Linked DNA regions of Homo sapiens. The protein of the gene in region 1 interacts with the protein of each later gene in a pairwise test. Each region holds a gene or a part of one and is shown in the gene's direction. Other genes may lie near its edges.

What was found. Proteins that work in one complex are often made in the same cells at the same time.
Region 2: the proteins of BACH1 (region 1) and ATF7 interact in binary tests that used the Homo sapiens proteins (3 or more experiments, as listed by UniProt).
Region 3: the proteins of BACH1 (region 1) and MAFB interact in binary tests that used the Homo sapiens proteins (3 or more experiments, as listed by UniProt).

Annotation. Positions count from the first base shown.
Region 1 is NC_000021.9:29,343,898-29,346,661, forward strand, and holds the end of BACH1 (transcription regulator protein BACH1), read left to right. Parts: 3' UTR 1-2,251; downstream 2,252-2,764. UniProt on the Homo sapiens protein: Transcriptional regulator that acts as a repressor or activator, depending on the context. Binds to NF-E2 DNA binding sites. Plays important roles in coordinating transcription activation and repression by MAFK.
Region 2 is NC_000012.12:53,532,352-53,539,388, reverse strand, and holds part of ATF7 (cyclic AMP-dependent transcription factor ATF-7), read left to right. Parts: intron 1-1,048; exon of another isoform or gene 1,049-1,183; intron 1,184-1,836; coding exon 1,837-1,974; intron 1,975-3,796; exon of another isoform or gene 3,797-4,023; intron 4,024-4,729; coding exon 4,730-4,887; intron 4,888-6,129; coding exon 6,130-6,229; intron 6,230-6,765; coding exon 6,766-6,879; intron 6,880-7,037. Other genes in the region: ATF7-NPFF readthrough protein, read left to right, coding at 1,837-1,974, 4,730-4,887, 6,130-6,229, 6,766-6,879. UniProt on the Homo sapiens protein: Stress-responsive chromatin regulator that plays a role in various biological processes including innate immunological memory, adipocyte differentiation or telomerase regulation.
Region 3 is NC_000020.11:40,686,206-40,693,971, reverse strand, and holds the start of MAFB (transcription factor MafB), read left to right. Parts: upstream 1-4,735; 5' UTR 4,736-5,121; coding exon 5,122-6,093; 3' UTR 6,094-7,766.

The DNA of each region.
Region 1 (2,764 bases):
GAAATAGGATGAAACTCAATCTTTTTCTATTGTGGGTTTGCATTTGAAAAGCAGGTTGAATCCTTGCTCTCTTCTCCAAATTTGGTGTGGTATAAAGACACACAAATCATTTTAACTTGGACATTTAAAGATCAGTCTTAGTGTTTGTTCAGTCCTGTTACAAAATAGATAACTGAGCACCTATCGCATAACATTTTGCGGTGGCTTTTAGCCATGCTGGGGTTAGATGTGTTTGAGAGTCAAATGAAAGCTATGGATCTTCTCAGCAATTAAAAAAAATGCATATATTCACATTCACAGAAACATTGGCAGAACCCAGTTTTAATGGTACAGAGGAGTAGTTTATAGTGTTGATTTCACCAAAATCAGAGGGCTGAAAGAGACACTTCTATAGACTGCATCCTGAGCCTAGTGCAGGGCTTGTCTAGCTAATGTGGGCAGCCACCACCCACTGTGTATGAACAAGTCTGAAGCAAGTTGGCCTTGCCCTTGAGAGTATATGGGGACCAGTCTTCATGTCTTGGAGTAATTTGTCAAATGTTACCCTTTTTGATCAGGGTGTAGGGGGAGGATATTGCTAGTATATTTTCAGTGGTTTGTATGTTCTCTCTGTCACTGACTTATTTGTAAGAGAAAATTAGTTGGACTTGTTTATTTTCTAGTAGCTTTTATAAGTACACTCAAGAATTTGTCAGGGAGAATAATTCTGATAGTGCATCCCATACTGCAAAAGAATTTGTGTGTGTGTGTGTGTGTGTGTGTGTGTGTGTGTATGTGTATGTATACATATATATCTCTCCATATAGGTATTTCTTTGATACTTGTAATTTTAAATTTCAGCTTCACGATATAAAATAATATAAGAACTTCTGGTTTACAAAATGTAAAATCTTAAGCCAATGGAACCCTTGATTTCCTACCTCAGTGTACACCCAACTATTGGTTGTATCAGTTTGTGTATGTGCAAATGTCAAATAATCTTTTGCTTTAATTGCTACTGTACTTGCTTTGAAAGATTACCTACTATTTTATGATAAAATGTAGTTGTCTCCAGAGCTTAAATATAATTTGTAAAGCACTTGGTTTAAATTTCTCTCTACCTATAAACAGTTTAGCATTAAGGGTTTCTATTAATGACACAGAATTATTGGCCAAGTGTAATTTCTTAAAATTTAGCATTACTTTAAATAGCCAGCATGTAATACAAGTAACTACACTACCTCATATCTACATGATTTTCAAGTTGTAATGCAGATGGACAGATAAAAAAGATTTTACGTTTGTCTTTTGGCCATAAGTGGGAAAGTTTTCTGTATATTGCATAGCATTACACATTTATGCCTATTTTAACATTAACTTCTAAAGAAGTTTTTTCTAAGAAAATGTTTCAAGGCAATATTTTTTTTGAGGCTGCCGAAGACAAATGACAGGATTATGAGTATACAGTGTATGCCTTTTCCTTCATGCAGAATTTTGAAATGTTTTCAGTTTGTATATTGCATATTCACATGATCATTGTTCACTATTTTATGAACTGGCCTTCTCAATGTTTGATGATTTTTTAAAAGCTGTTATGTTGAATTCAGTAAAATAACATTACCTTATTTTTTTTCTTATTCAAATTCTGGAACTATAGCAAATAATTCGTTAAATTGTCATATTCAAAACAAATGTGGATACAGTCTTGGTTCTCCATCTGTAATTTTTTTTAACAGTTTGCTATAGCTTACTGCTTAACTAATTTTAAATAAGGAAATAAGTATGTTAGATGCAGTAGACGATACAGGTTGCATGTGGACACTCAGTCACATTAACAACTTGGGAAAAAAATGGCAATGTTACGGTGAATTCTCAGGTGAACTTTTTTCAGTTATAAAACATCTATTTTGAATCTGTAAATATTTTAAATGTTTTATTAAGGCATGTAATAAACTATTCTTTGAAACTTGTTGGGTAGAATGAAAATTAAAGCCATAATGGTAGAAGATGGCATACTGATTATAAAAGAAGCAGAAAAACATTGATTTTTTTATATCTTTCATAATATAATTTTCTAACAATGCAATAAAACCACTAAACTTTTGTGTCCATATTTTACTGAGACCATGTTTCATTAAAAGCATAGTTTCATAGTATTTAATTTACATTTCTCCCTAATGTTCTTACCCAAATGTACCTGAACTAAAAAATGTTAGATGTTGGTGATAAGTTGACAGTTAAATAAAATTCTCTAAAATTGCTTCTAATTGAATAGAATTGTACATTCCATTTTCATTTTCTCACTTCATGTGGATTTACTCAGTTTAGTCTTTTGATCGGTAATTAGTATATCTGAATTTGTAGGAGAGAATCTTTCCTTAGTTGATGATAATCATGCCTCAAAAAAAAAAAAATTCCAGCATTCAGGTGTTTTAGGAAGCACAGATTTTAGCTTTGCTTCTGATTTTACTTAATGTTAGTTTGGATAGAGAAGTATAGGGACTCTTAAGGGGTATTATCTCTATCAGTCATTAAGTTTTAAAAACTTATCTGCCGAGTCAGCTCTTTGTATCCTATTCAATTTCCAACCAGGCCCTTCTGACCAAGCTTTGGGCAGCTGCTCAGCGGTATTGGCCATCCAGGGCAAAGTCTTCTGGTCTAATCATAGTGATTCTCAGCTGGGGATGATTTTGCTTGCCTAGGGGACACTTGGCAGTTCCCAGAGACACAAATCTCGGGGGCAGGGTATAGGATATGGCTTCTAGGGGCAGAGGCCAGGACAGCC
Region 2 (7,037 bases), on another chromosome or scaffold:
CAGGCTGGTCTAGAATTTCGGGCCTCAGGTGATCCTCCCACCTTGGCCTCCCAAAGTGTTGAGATTACAGGCATGAGCCACCACACTTGGCCTATGAGGGATTTTATACCCAATTTATTATAGGCAAATTCAAGAAAATTAGCTTCCCATAAAAAGCTTCAAGTCTTTTTCATTGCCATTTTAGCTCAGTTGACACTTCTGGGAGACTAGTTTATAGTCAGCCCTTTCCTCACTGGGCATTCCTTGGTGTATCCTCCTGCCTGTACAGGAGTGGTCTTTACTTCCCCTTAATGAGAAGTACAGGCTCAGTGGAAGAGTCTCCAGAAGTGTTTAATGAGTGTGGAACTTTGCTGAACCGCAGCTTTGCTAGGAGATGCCCTAGAGGATTTCAAATCTATGGTTGTATTTACTTAGAGGCTTCTCCTTCCCACTAGTCTCTGACTTAAGAGATCTCAGAATTAGCTAAATTGGACCTGACATCTTAGCTATGTAGAAAAAATGAGGCAGAAATGAAGCTACTTTTGCTGTTGCTCACCCTCCTCAGATTGGGGAAAATGAACCACTACTACCTTCTCTAATGTAGTAGATATCACATTATCTTTAATTTACTCAGCTAGCTATCAAGAAGGTTTCTAAGGGTTAGGGTAGCAAGGGAAGATCTTGAAACAAGCAGTTGCTTCACCAAGAAGCCTGGGATACAGGATAGATAGAACAAAGGATCCACTTTGTTATGAAACTGAACTGCAATGCCAACCCTCCTATCCTGGTTCAGTGTCAAGGCCATTATCTCAGATGGTTTATTGTTCCCTGCAAGGCCGTTTACAGCTCCACAGTTCTGTGAGGTGATTGCATCACTGCCAGGAAAGTGCTCTCTTTCCTTTCTGGTTTTCTCCAGTCTTGCTCCTAAGACCAAGTTGTCATTTATTTCACCAATCAGATGATCAGCCTTTCTTTTCTGTTACCCCAAACCCCTTGTCTACCTGATACATCCAGCACCATATTTTGGGGTGAGATCACCATCAAGCATGGTGAGTTCCCCAGAAAATACCTTTCCTATCTGGTTTGCAGTACTTGAATAGCCAGTTTGTCTTTGTTTGCTTTTGGTAATTGGGTAATCCTTGTTGGCAGAGAAAGTGTTCACAGCTCTCCAGTGGCCAGCAGATTCAGGAATTATTTTGATTTCCTGAAAAATATTATCATAATATTTGCATGGATTTAAATGGCATCTTTTTTTTCAGGTCTTTATAAATATTTGTTTACCATTGGTGAAGCAGGTATTATCTTCATCTTATAGTTGGGGAAACAGAAGCCCTGAGAATTACCGACAAAATGATTTGGCCAGAATTGTACATAAAACATAAGGGGCCCATATTTCTTGGCCGGATGCAGTGGCTCATTCCTGTAATCCCAACACTTTGGGAGGCTGAGGCAGGTGAATCACCTGAGGTCGGGAGTTCGAGATCAGCCTGACCAACATGGAGAAACCCCATCTCTATTAAAAATAAAAAATTAGCTGGGCGTGGTGGCACATGCCTATAATCCCAGCTACTTGGGAGGCTGAGGCGGGAGAATCTCTTGAACTTGGGAGGTGGAAGTTGCAGTGAGACGAGATCACACCATTGCACTCTAGCCTGGGCAACAAGATTGAAACTACGCCTCAAAATACAAAACAAATCAAACATAAGGGGCCCACATTTATTTGACATGCAGTTCAGTGCATTGTATAAGAGCAGAACTTCTTAGAAGCATATTCCCTTATCTTGGAAATGGGAAAATATAGATTCAACCTGAAAGGAATCATAGGGTTAAACTCTGTTCATTTTTCTTTCACAACAGGCTGCTGCTGGGCCCCTTGACATGTCTCTGCCTTCCACACCAGACATCAAAATCAAAGAAGAAGAGCCAGTGGAGGTAGACTCATCCCCACCTGATAGCCCTGCCTCTAGTCCCTGTTCCCCACCACTGAAGGAGAAGGTAAATTCTCTACCAAGGATCATCTCAAATGTTAATTGATAAAGTTTTGATTCATTAATTATATAAATAGTATGTCCTAACTACTCAGGAGGCCAAGATGGGAGAATCACTTGAGCCCAGAAATTCAAGACCAGCCTGGGCAACATGGAGAAACCCCATCTCCACTTAAAATACAAAAATTACCTGGGCGTGGTGGAGCATGCCTGTAGTTCCAGCTACTTGAGAGTATGAGGTGGAGGATCACTTAAGCCCTAGAGGTCGAGGCTGCAGTGAGCTGTGATTGCTCCACTGCACCCCAGCCTGGGCAACAGAGTGAGACTGTCTCAAGAAAAAAAAAAGTATGTATTATAGGAGGACCGATTGTATTTAAAGGAATATTTAGAAGATTTATATAAATTATACCTATTCTCCTTCCCAGCAATTTCACTTATAAGTCTATATGGAAGAGAAATTAGTGCATATGTCTACCAAAAGAAGTATGTTAGAATGTTCATAGCAATTGTATTCTTTTGTTGTTGTTGTTGTTGTTGAGACAGTCTCACTCTGTCACCCAGGCTGGAGTGCAATGGCGTGATCTTGGCTCACTGCAACCTCTGCCTCCCAGGTTTGAGCGATTCTCCTGCCTCAGCCTCCCAAGTAGCTGGGACTACAGGTGCGTGCCACCACGCCCGGCTAATTTTTGTACTTTTAGTAGAGATGGGGTTTCACCACATTTGTCAGGCTGGTCTCGATCTCCTGACCTCAGGCGATCTGCCCGCCTCGGCCTCCCAAAGTGCTAGGGTTACAGGATTGAGCCACCGCGCCCGGCCAGCAATTGTATTCTTAATAGCCAAAAATCAGTCAGGCACGGTGGCTCATGCCTGTAATCCCAGCACTTTGGGAGGCCGAGGTGGTGGAATCACTTGAGGCCAGGAGTTCAAGACCAGCCTGGCCAACATAGTGAAACCCCATCTCTACCAAAAATACAAAAATTAGCTGGATGTGGTGGTGTGTGCCTATAATCCCAGCTACTCGGGAGGCTGAGATAGGAGAATTGCTTGAACCCAGGAGGCCAGGGTTTCAGTGAGCCAAGATTGCACCATTGCACTCCAGCCTGAGCGACAGAGCAAAACTCCGTCTCAAAAAAAAAAAAAAAGTGAACTAATAATTACACAGCAATGTGAGTGAATCCCACAAACATATCCAACAACAACAAAAAAGTCATACACAAAAGTACATACTTATAAAATTCAAGAAGAGGCAAAACTGTTTGACAATGATAGAACTCAGGATAGCATTTACCTCCTGTGAAGGAATGGTGTGGATTGGAAAGGGACATAGAACTTTCTGGGGTGCTGGAAATGGTCTGTATCCTGATTTTACATCTGTAACAAGTCATCTTTTTTTTTTTTTCTTTTGAGAGAAAGTCTTGCTCTGATGCCCAGGCTGGAGTGCAGTGGTGCAATCTCAGCTCACTGCAACGTCTGCCTCCCAGGCTCAAGCAATTCTCTTGCTTCAGCCTCCCAAAGTGCTGCGATTACAGACGTGAGCACCGCACCCAGCCTAAAAGTCATTTTGTTGTTATGACTTTAATGCACATCACTGTATGTTATACTTCAATTAATAAGTGAGAAAGAAAAATTCACATAATTCATAAATTGGACATCTAACAGTTTCGAAAAAATGTCATCCTAGAGAGAAGTGATTTAAAGGAAGTATCTACTAGAAGTCTGATGATTATTCTTTTTAAAGGAAGTACTTTCATGAAGTACTATTTTTAATACATTTATTGAAATATAGTACATGTACAGAAAAGTATATAAATTGTAATTATATCACTTACTGAATTTTCACGAAGTCAGTAGTCTGTATAACCAGCACCTAGATCAAAAACATTTTCTTAGAACCTCAGAAGCCCCCTCATGCTTCCTCCTTCTTTCAATCTACTGCTCTGCCAGTGGTTGTTAATTTTAACATCCACTATGGATAGAGCATCTATATCTCATGTTACTTCCCTCCAAATTTGACTTGATAACTTCTCAAATCTGTCTTCTCATAAACATTACAACCATCCCATCTCCTCCCTTTTCTTTTTTTTTTTTTTTTTGAGGCAGAGTCTCGCTCTGTCGCCAGGCTGGAGTGCAGTGGTGCGATCTCAGCTCACTGCAACCTCCTCCGCCTCTCTCCTCCCTTTTCATCAGCAACAAAGTCCTACAGACTGTCTGGGGATGCTGTCAAGGCCATTTGACCACTGGCAGTCTAAGATCTTAAGAAGTTAACAATGAGAGCAGTTTGTTTTATTACAGTATGATCATTATCCAAACTTCCATAGCCCTTTTTTAAGAGGTGTGTTGGAGATGTTGGGTTGCCTCATTACCATCATTACCAGTATACCTGCCTTTTCCCACTGAAGTTCAGAGGACACTTGGTATCAAGTTTAGAATGAGAGTATCTAGATTGTGAAAAATTATAACAGTCTCTAGAATTTATATGGTACTACAGTGCTGCTTCAGAGATTTCAAGTGATATTCCAACTGTCATCTTATTTATGTAGCCATTGTCTCTGAAAGGGGAGATGACCAAGAGATCTTAATACACCATTCCTCCTGAATGGATGAGTGAGTTATGGGTCCCTGATCCTGATGGAATCAGGTCATGATTTAATGAGTGGCTCTAATGCTCTTTCCAATAAATTTGTACTAGATTTTACCATCTATATATTTCCCTATAAGCACACCTTAAAACATTTTGTGATCTGTTGGTTTCTTTTCTCCAGGAGGTTACCCCAAAGCCTGTTCTGATCTCTACCCCCACACCCACCATTGTACGTCCTGGCTCCCTGCCTCTCCACTTGGGCTATGATCCACTTCATCCAACCCTTCCCTCCCCAACCTCTGTCATCACACAGGCTCCACCATCCAACAGGCAAATGGGGTAAGTACAGAGAGCAGGGAGAAGTAGTGAAGGCTGCATTTCTTTCCATTACATGAAACTATTTGATAAAACTGGGACTGTTTTCCAATACCCAAGGAAAATAAGTCACTGAGATTATCTCTCAAAATAAATTTTTCCCCCATAAACAGAATCTTCTTTACCTTTTTAATAGACAAGCAAATATTTATTTGGAGGTAATACTTTTTGTTTTTTTTGGGTTTTTTTGAGATAGAGGCTCGCTCTGTCGCCCAGGCTGGAGTGCAGTGGTGCAATCTCGGCTCACTGCAAGCTCCGTCTCCCGGGTTCAGGCCATTCTCCTGCCTCAGCCTCCCGAGTAGCTGGGAACACAGGCGCCTGCAACCACGCCCAGCTAATTTTTTGTATTTTTAGTAGAGACGGGGTTTCACCGTGTTAGCCAGGACGATCTCGATCTCCTGACCTCGTGATCCGCCTGCCTCTGCCTCCCAAAGTGCCGGGATTACAGGCGTGAGCCACCGTGCCCAGCCGGGGGTAATACTTTCTTAATTTAAGGGTTTAATACTTCTTTAATCTAAAAAGAGCTCTTAAAACATTAGAAGTTCATTACAGTGTGGAAACCACACCCTGTAGAAGTCTATTGGGGTACTACTGAATGAAACACTGAAACCCATTAAGTCTCCTCAGTCCCAGTTAGGGTTCTTGGTCTTTGCCACCTCTAATTTTATTTGTCTGTTTGTCTTCACTCCTGGCACGGTACCCATGGGTTAAGAGGCTGTTGTCAGGATTCAGATTCTTAGAGCTTATTGTTCTCTGGACCCACTAGGAAAAATAAAAAGGGACAACTTCTTTTTGAGGCAGGGTAGAGCAAGCCATGGAAAGAAACAAGAGAAACATTCAGATTTGGCCATCATGTGACCTAACTCAGCTTTGCAAAATGACGACTTTGATCCAACTTCCCCTTTCCCAAGGCAAGCCAGTGGTAGGAATGTTTAATTGTTCTAAACCCTTTAATAGGATTAGCTTCCTACTATTTGAGTTTGCTTAATTTGCAAAGTATAAAGATTTTGCCATTTTTCTCCATCTATAAGGTAAGTTGAATAGGATTCCCTGCCTTCTCACCTTCATGAGGGTGTCAAGATTTTTACCATGCTGCCCTATACCTTCCCTAACTAGAGAAGACTGGAAAATCTTCTGTAATTATAAGAGGAAGATCCATGGACAAAAGGTCTGTGTTATGAGCATTTCACTTCATGTCTCCTCTAGGTCTCCCACTGGCTCCCTCCCTCTTGTCATGCATCTTGCTAATGGACAGACCATGCCTGTGTTGCCAGGGCCTCCAGTACAGATGCCGTCTGTTATATCGGTGAGCTCTGTAGTTGGGGCAGCCAACCCTACCAACATGGTAATCCTTCCCTTCCACCTGAATGGTCATAAAATACACATGAGCCCCAGGGAAATGTGGGCTCTGATCTATATTAGCTGAGCATGGCAGCCTGCCTAAACTCTTCACTAACCTCTGCCAATCCAGCACTATGGAACACTAGATAAAGACTCATCTGGACAATTGGCTCCTGGTCTAGGAATTGATCTTGCCAGCCCACTGATTAGTTGCTTTCACTTGGCACGTAGCACCTCCCAAATTGCCCAACAATTTCCTCAAGATAACAGCCCCAACCCTTCCCACAGAAATTGCCCCAACACTGAAGGATTAAATTCCCTACTCTGGTGCTCCATGGAGAAAGGTATTTCCCAGGCTGTCCCTGCACGCCCTATGGGCACATTGCACACAACAGGCCCTGATGTGCCAATCTCAAAAGCGCTTCATTTTAGGGAAACTGTTGCCCCACCGATGGTATTATGTTCCCTTCTCTTTTTTTTTTTTTCCTTCTCTCGATCCAGCTGGCCAGACCTGTGTCCATGGTGCCCAACATTCCTGGTATCCCTGGCCCACCAGTTAACAGTAGTGGCTCCATTTCTCCCTCTGGCCACCCTATACCATCAGAAGCCAAGATGGTGAGTACATCCCAGTCTGGGGCAATGTTGGCCTTTCTGAAAGAAGTGGGTGATACCAGCCTAGGTCTTTCAAGTGAGCCAAGCAAAGGAACCTTCTGGGGCTTGCAAAGCTAAGGACTCCCTGCTGTGGGGTCTGGAAAAGAAAAGACTCCAATTCA
Region 3 (7,766 bases), on another chromosome or scaffold:
CAGCTACTTGGGAGGCTGAGGCAGGAGAATCGATTGAACCCAGGAGGTGGAGGTTGCAGTGAGCCGAGATTACGCCACTGCACTCCAGGCTCCAGCCTGGGCAACAGAGTGAGACTCCATCTCAAAAAATAAAATAAAACAAACCAACAACAACAACAAAAACAACAAAACAAAAAGGTGAATGACAAAAGGCTTTGCAACTCCCTGTACAAATGAGAGTGACTATTATCAAATATCCCATCTGTGTTGGAAGCAATACTGCCCAGTGGTTATCTAATGCAGGCTTGTCCATCAGAAATAGAATGTGAGGCACATGTGTAATTTAAAATTATTTATTGGTCACATTAGAACACAGTAAAAAAAAACAGTGAAATAGTTTTAATAATAATTTCCTACCCCTAAGTGTGTGTGTGTGCTCGCGTGCACATTTCTGCATGTATTGGGGTGTTGTCCCTGGTCCCCAGGAGAGACAGCCAGGATCTTCACAGTCAGTGTAACTCTGGCTCCCTACTGGGACCCTCTGAATCTTTTGGTTGCCTAAAGACCACCAGGACCCAGAAACCCAAGAATACCTTTTTAGAAGCACTGGGTTGGAATCTGACAGCGGTTGTATGGGGCAAGGGAAAGTGGAAGTGATAGCTGCCTTTGGGAAGAGGAAAAGGAAGAGTAAGGGCAAAAAACAGAAACAAAAATCCCCCAGAAAACCCTCCTGTCTCTTTTTGGGTTCCATAGACCTTGGGAGGATCCCACGGAATGGGAGCAACATAATACTTTTCCACTGAGCCTCACAAAAGGTGGCAGAGACCTGAGGGCTCCTTGGAAAAGACAGGTGACACTACATCTGGGTGATGCAAAGGCAGAAGTCAAGCTCCTGCGGCAGGCGGGAGGTGGGGGTCCCCTGATTCAGGACCCTCCCTGGCAGAACTTGCCTCTGAGGCCCTTGAGACCACTGGCCTCTGCTTAGCGACTCCGCATAGTACGATCCGGAGCCCACCGAGCTTTGAAGCTGGAAGTTTCCCGCTCCCGCATCCCGCGTGCTGCTGCGCCTCTCCACCAACACACACGCGCGCGCAAACAGCACACGCACGAACACACCCCTCCCGCACGCCTCCAACAGCACCCATGCGTGCACAGAGACGCCTCCTCGCTCACCAACCACCTGCAACCCTCAGGGAAATAACGCCGAAGGTGAACGGCGCACCTTCGGGCTGAATGAGGATGCCAGGAATGCCGCTCTGGTTTCCAGGCGTACGGGAGGACACGCCGCCGGGCCTCTCTGGAGTTATTCCCTCGGCTGAGTGGGGGCCAACGAGGGCAGCGCGGCAAACCTCACACCTGGCGGCTGGCTGTGGGCTCCACGCTCCCTTAGGGAATAACCTCTTCTCTTACTCCTACCCCGAATGCTCCAAGGCTCTGCAGCGGCTCGGACCCTGCAGAGCTTCCTCCATCACCATTTGTAGCTAAAGAATCCCGAGGCGGTGCGTCCCAGAGGCATAGCCTCTGGCCCAACCTGGCGTGGGTAGAGAGGAGGTCACTCTTGGGTAAACACCTTAAATGGGAGTTTTGGCAACAAGCTGTTCACTAGAGGGGCTGTGGCTGCCGCAAAATCCCCGACTTTCCTTCAGTGTGCCTTGGGACTCCGTGCATTTCCTTCAGTGTGCCTTGGGACTCCGTGCACTGCTCGCGTGTCTCCTGGCCTCCCTTTACTTCTCCTCGACCCTTCACTTCTTCCACCGTTCCTTCTTTTACTTTTTTTCTTTGAGCGTGTCGGACTCCCAGTCAATAGGTATACAGCAGCAATCCCTCACCCTCCTCACCTCAACCCTGCCTACGTTTTAGGGATAGGGTGAAGACTGCGGGCACTGCTGTGTATCCATGACGGGGAGCCGAGCCTGGCATGCTGATCCAGAGACCCCAGAGATGAGAAGCGGCATCCCGCGACAGCAGTCGGAAGTTGGAGGCTATAGGGCCTGGGGCTCCAAGTCAGCGCAGCAGTAACCGGGGTGGGGGAGGCCAGGCCACGAAGTGGGGCCGGCTGCGCAGCAGCGGCCTTAACTCCTCGGCCACCTGCATGTCTCCGTCATTCACCCACAGCCTGGCAGGGGTAGGGCTGTTTCCAACATTTTTTTTTGGTGGGGTAGGTTGTGGGGTGTGCAGAGGAGGGAGTGGCTAAGCTGGGAGAGGGGCAGAGAAACGGATTTGGGTGGGGAAGTGAGCCTGGGGATGGACAGAGATACCACAGTCAAAGCCCAGGCGAAGGGAGTGACCACAACAGAGACAGAGGCACAGGGACAAAGAAGAGCGCGGTTGCCCAAAGCCCGAGTCCAAGAGACCCTGAGTCGGAGGCAGGCCGCCCGCAGGAGAAGAGGAGGTTCGGAACCGCAGACCTGGGGCCTCAGGAATCCCCAGGGCCTTAATGGGCCACGGAAGTCTTCGACGGCCAGTGTCAGGCAGAGCCGAGGGGACGTATGGGCGGGGGTGGAGTGGGTCACAGCTTGGCCTGTCCATCTTGGTGCCCGCGCAGAAGTCCACAGTGGCAGAAACACTCTGGGAGCCACAGGTCTCTTAGGACCCTGAGGGAGGGTGCTACCAGCTCTAGTCCAGTCGGGACCAAGAGAGTCAGGCGTGCTTGTCCCGCCCTGGCCGCCTGAGGCCGGAGCCATACATAGTCTGCACAGATCCGAGACACCCGGTCCCGAGTGATCTGGAAACGAGTGTGCTCTCACTGCGTTCAAACAAGACGAGGACATTTACAAGGTGCGAGTCCCCAACCCCCAGCTACTGGCAGGGGCTGCGCAGCGGCACCGCCCAGGCTCTCTCTCCAGGCGGCCGACTCATTTCTGCGGAGAGCACGCTTCTCGAAGAGGGTTGTAGACGCGCTCTTCCAGCATTTAATTTGCCACCCCACAAGATTGAGTTAAGTTTTAGTTAAAATACACTCATTTTATTAAAAATAGGCGGCCCAATACCACGCCGTACCCCAGCCTCTCCGAGGGCGCAAGAGAATAGAGAGTTTTCAGATTAATTGGAGGCAAATATTTTACCTTCTAACATTTAAAAATAATCTAGGCGCGTCTGCACCGGTGTGGCTCACGCGACCCCTACGCGCGAGGTCAGTCGGGCTGGTCCAGCGCAGACAGCGGCCGGGACTCACTCACCCAGTGCGCGCCTCTCCTGCCTTTCGCTGCGCGCGCCCAAAGCTAGAAAGAAGAAGGTGACGCGGGAGGCGGGTCGGGTCTCCGGGTCCAGCGAATTCGCGATCTATCCGGTTTCGGCGCCTGAGCCGAGGTCTCAGAAAGAACCCGTTAATTCTAGCCATCCTGGATCTGGGTAGGGAGGGTGCGCGGCTCCCAAGCCCAGTCTGGATGCCTAGTGCGGTGTGCTTCGGTCTCCCCGTCTGCCCTCCGGGGAGGTTTCTCACCCGGTGGCCCTGGGCCGCTTCACTGTGGCGCTTCCACTTTTGGCTACCGGCCTTCCTCCGCCCAGGACCTTCCGGCCCAGGGAGCAGCCGACGGGCACCCCCGAACGCTGGGGCACGGAATTTCAACGGGGCGACCAGAGCGGAGCTCGCGGCTCGAGGCTCGCGGCTGAGTACGAAGACGGGACCCGAGGACCTGTACATCGCTCGAGGGGAACCTGTCCTGGGCTCTGGTGCACACATAGTATGCGTTCTGGGCTGGCTTGGGTTGGGCCAGGTAGGGGAGACCTGGCTGGGTACGAGGCGCCGTCCAAGCCTTCCGGCCGTGGGCCGGGCGGTCGCGGCGCCTTTGCGCACAGTGGCCACTTGGGGTCGCACTTTATGCCTGTTTGAGCCTCTCCGCGGCGGGCTGACGCCGGGATCTGCTTAATCGTTACAAAACGTTCAAACAAAAACAGGGCCGGCTCCCCAGCAGTGGAGAGCTACTCGGAGCACCGTCCCGGGCCGGCCTCGGCCCCGAGGCTCCGGGGGCTCAGGATTCCGTGCGTGTGGCGGGGAAGAGGAATTCAGAGCCTTTGGGCTGCTGCTTTTCCCGTCGCCTTCACTGTGAACATTGTGCGGTGGGGTGAACGCGGGGAGCGGCGGGGCCAGTGGAGTCGAACCTCAGGGCTCTGCGACTGCACCCGCCAGGAGGGGCCCTCGCTTGGCCTGAGAAAGGTCCCCTGAGGTTAAGAGTTGGGTCTGAACACAACTCTCGGAGCCTCGAGCCCGCCCTCCCCAACATACAAATACGCGCAGATCTCCAGAAACAGGAACGCACGACACACACGGCCAGAAGCCGCGAGGACACACAGAGCGTCGCCCACTGGGCGGGGGCCGCTTGGGAACAAAGGGCCCAGGAGGCGTTGTCCCGGCGCTCATTCTGAGCCTCCTTGGGGGTGACACGGGATGGGGGTGGGGTGCAAAGGGAACTGAGGGAGGAGAGTGCGCGAGGAGGGGAAAGCGGTGATTTGGCCTAGAGGTGGGGCGCGCACTCCAGGCGAGCGTGCGTGGGCCGGGACCTGCAGGGTACGGGGGTGGGCCCAGGCTGGCCGTCCCACTCCGCTCCAGCGCTCCGCCAGGCCTCCGCCGCTCCGGGGCCGCTCGGGCCGCCAGTCAGCTGACGCGGGGGGCGGGGGAGCTGTCAGGCGCGCCCCGCCCTGCGCCGCTGGGCCGCGGAGGCCGTGCAGCTATTGGCCCGCGCACCGGGCCGCCCGGGCCCCCGCACCCCAGTGACATCAGGAGGCGATAAAAGGCTGCGGCGCCGCCGGATCCAGCACAGCTGCACCGCCGAGCTGCGAGCGGCTGCGAGCGAGAGAGCGTAAGAGCAAGAGAGCTAGAGAGCGAGCAACGGGCACTCGCCCCACGCCTCCCCTCAGCCCCACCGCGCGCTCCGCTTGCCTCTCCACCCCGCCCGACTCTACCCGGCCCGGTCCCTGCGCGGGCACAGCCCAGAGCTCTGGGGCGGTGCAGGCAGCCTCGGGACTCTCCGGCGCGCCGCCGCGTCCCCAGACAAAGGCTTGGCCGGCGGCCCCGGCCCGCTGCGCCCTCGCTCCCCGCCTCCCCAGCTCTTCTCCGCTCTTCCCCCCCGCGCTTGGCTCGGCGCGCTCCGGCCGGCCGCAAAGTTTCCCGGGCGGCAGCGGCGGCTGCGCCTCGCTTCAGCGATGGCCGCGGAGCTGAGCATGGGGCCAGAGCTGCCCACCAGCCCGCTGGCCATGGAGTATGTCAACGACTTCGACCTGCTCAAGTTCGACGTGAAGAAGGAGCCACTGGGGCGCGCGGAGCGTCCGGGCAGGCCCTGCACACGCCTGCAGCCAGCCGGCTCGGTGTCCTCCACACCGCTCAGCACTCCGTGTAGCTCCGTGCCCTCGTCGCCCAGCTTCAGCCCGACCGAACAGAAGACACACCTCGAGGATCTGTACTGGATGGCGAGCAACTACCAGCAGATGAACCCCGAGGCGCTCAACCTGACGCCCGAGGACGCGGTGGAAGCGCTCATCGGCTCGCACCCAGTGCCACAGCCGCTGCAAAGCTTCGACAGCTTTCGCGGCGCTCACCACCACCACCATCACCACCACCCTCACCCGCACCACGCGTACCCGGGCGCCGGCGTGGCCCACGACGAGCTGGGCCCGCACGCTCACCCGCACCATCACCATCATCACCAAGCGTCGCCGCCGCCGTCCAGCGCCGCTAGCCCGGCGCAACAGCTGCCCACTAGCCACCCCGGGCCCGGGCCGCACGCGACGGCCTCGGCGACGGCGGCGGGCGGCAACGGCAGCGTGGAGGACCGCTTCTCCGACGACCAGCTCGTGTCCATGTCCGTGCGCGAGCTGAACCGCCACCTGCGGGGCTTCACCAAGGACGAGGTGATCCGCCTGAAGCAGAAGCGGCGGACCCTGAAGAACCGGGGCTACGCCCAGTCTTGCAGGTATAAACGCGTCCAGCAGAAGCACCACCTGGAGAATGAGAAGACGCAGCTCATTCAGCAGGTGGAGCAGCTTAAGCAGGAGGTGTCCCGGCTGGCCCGCGAGAGAGACGCCTACAAGGTCAAGTGCGAGAAACTCGCCAACTCCGGCTTCAGGGAGGCGGGCTCCACCAGCGACAGCCCCTCCTCTCCCGAGTTCTTTCTGTGAGTCGTGGCCGGTCCTGGCCCCCGCCCTTGCCCCGGCCCGGACTCCCTGTCCCACGTCCCTAGTCCCAGACTACCCCGGACCCTGTCCCTGCCGCGGCCCCAGCCTTGACCTGTTTGACTTGAGCGAGAGGGAGGAAGGGCGCGCGGGCCGCGGGCGACGGGCGGGTGCGCGGGCGGGCAGGGGACCTTGGCTAAGGCGAGAGTAGCGCACGCCAGCGCCGCCTCCTAGACTCGAGCAGAGCCGGAGAGAGAGACGAGAGGGTGGGAGGTCCCGGAGTAACTTCTCTCCAGGCTGAAGGGCGGCGAGGCATAGTCCCGAGAAGTCACCAAGGCCATCTGGAGACTCCTGGCTTTCTGAACTTTGCGCGTTAAGCCGGGACAGCTGCTTTGCTGCCCGGAGAGTAGTCCGCGCCAGGAAGAGAGCAACGAGGAAAGGAGAGGGACTCTGGCGTCCCGGCAGGCGAGAGGCGAGGCTGAGCGAAAGAAGGAAGGACAGACGGACCTGTCTGTCAGAGTTCGGAGAACACTGGCTCTCAGCCCTGAGACACAGGCCTCAGTTAGGACGCTCGGCGCCCAAATCTCATCAGTTTTATTGCCTGCTCGATTATATAGAAAAATACAAAAAATCTGCATTAAAAATATTAATCCTGCATGCTGGACATGTATGGTAATAATTTCTATTTTGTACCATTTTCTTGTTTAACTTTAGCATGTTGTTGATCATGGATCATACTCCCCTTGTTTCTTTGGGTGAGAAGGGATCGCAGTTTGGAAACTCCGGCGGCTGCGTGCGGGGTTTCAGTCCCAGCTGTAGGCTTGTAAATACCCGCCCCGCCAAACCGCATAGAGAACGTGGCAGCAAGCTGAGGGTCTTTGTTTGGGTTTATTATTACGGTATTTTTGTTTGTAAGTTAAAAAGAAAAAAAAAAAGAAAAAGTTCCGGGCATTTTGCATCAGAAAACAACTTTGTCTTGGGGCACACTTGGAAGTTGCATGTTTTCTTTCCTTCCCTTATCCCCATTCGGTCCTCTTTTTCCTCTCTCGCTTTAGTTTTCAACCTTGTTGGTGCTGAGAGAGAGAACCGAGAGGTCCCAGTACAAGGGCAGGGCAGGGCAGGGAAGCTGCCAAGCTCCGCACCCCAGAGGAGTGTTCTGGACTACAGCCTTGTCTTATGGTCAAATTGATACCCTTAATAAGAAAGGAAAGGAAAGGAAAACAGATCCTCCCCTCTGCTTTTTATTGTAACCAGAATCACCCTGAGGTCCCTTCTGAACCCTCTGGGCCTGCGCTAATTGTAGGAGCCACAGCGCTCCTAGGGTGAGAGGCTTAGCCATCCCTGACCCTGGCAGTGCACTGGTAAGCAGACACTGCACTGAACCAACTGCTATGCTCAGAATGTACCAGAAACCCAAACATTGGCAAGTAATTTTGCAACTTTCAAGTGCGTTCTTTAGACCAATGCATTGCGTTTCTTTCCCTGCTTTTGAGATAGTAGGAAGAGTTCTTGGTGGTGTCCCCCCCCTTCAATTCTTCAGTTGTATAGTAGTTATAGGGAAGATATGGGTGTTTTTCTTTATTATTACTTTTTTTTTTCTGCAGGTCAGTAAAAGGATTTAAGTTGCACTGACAAAAATACCAAAATAAAAGTGTATTTTTAAGTTCCCATTTGAAATT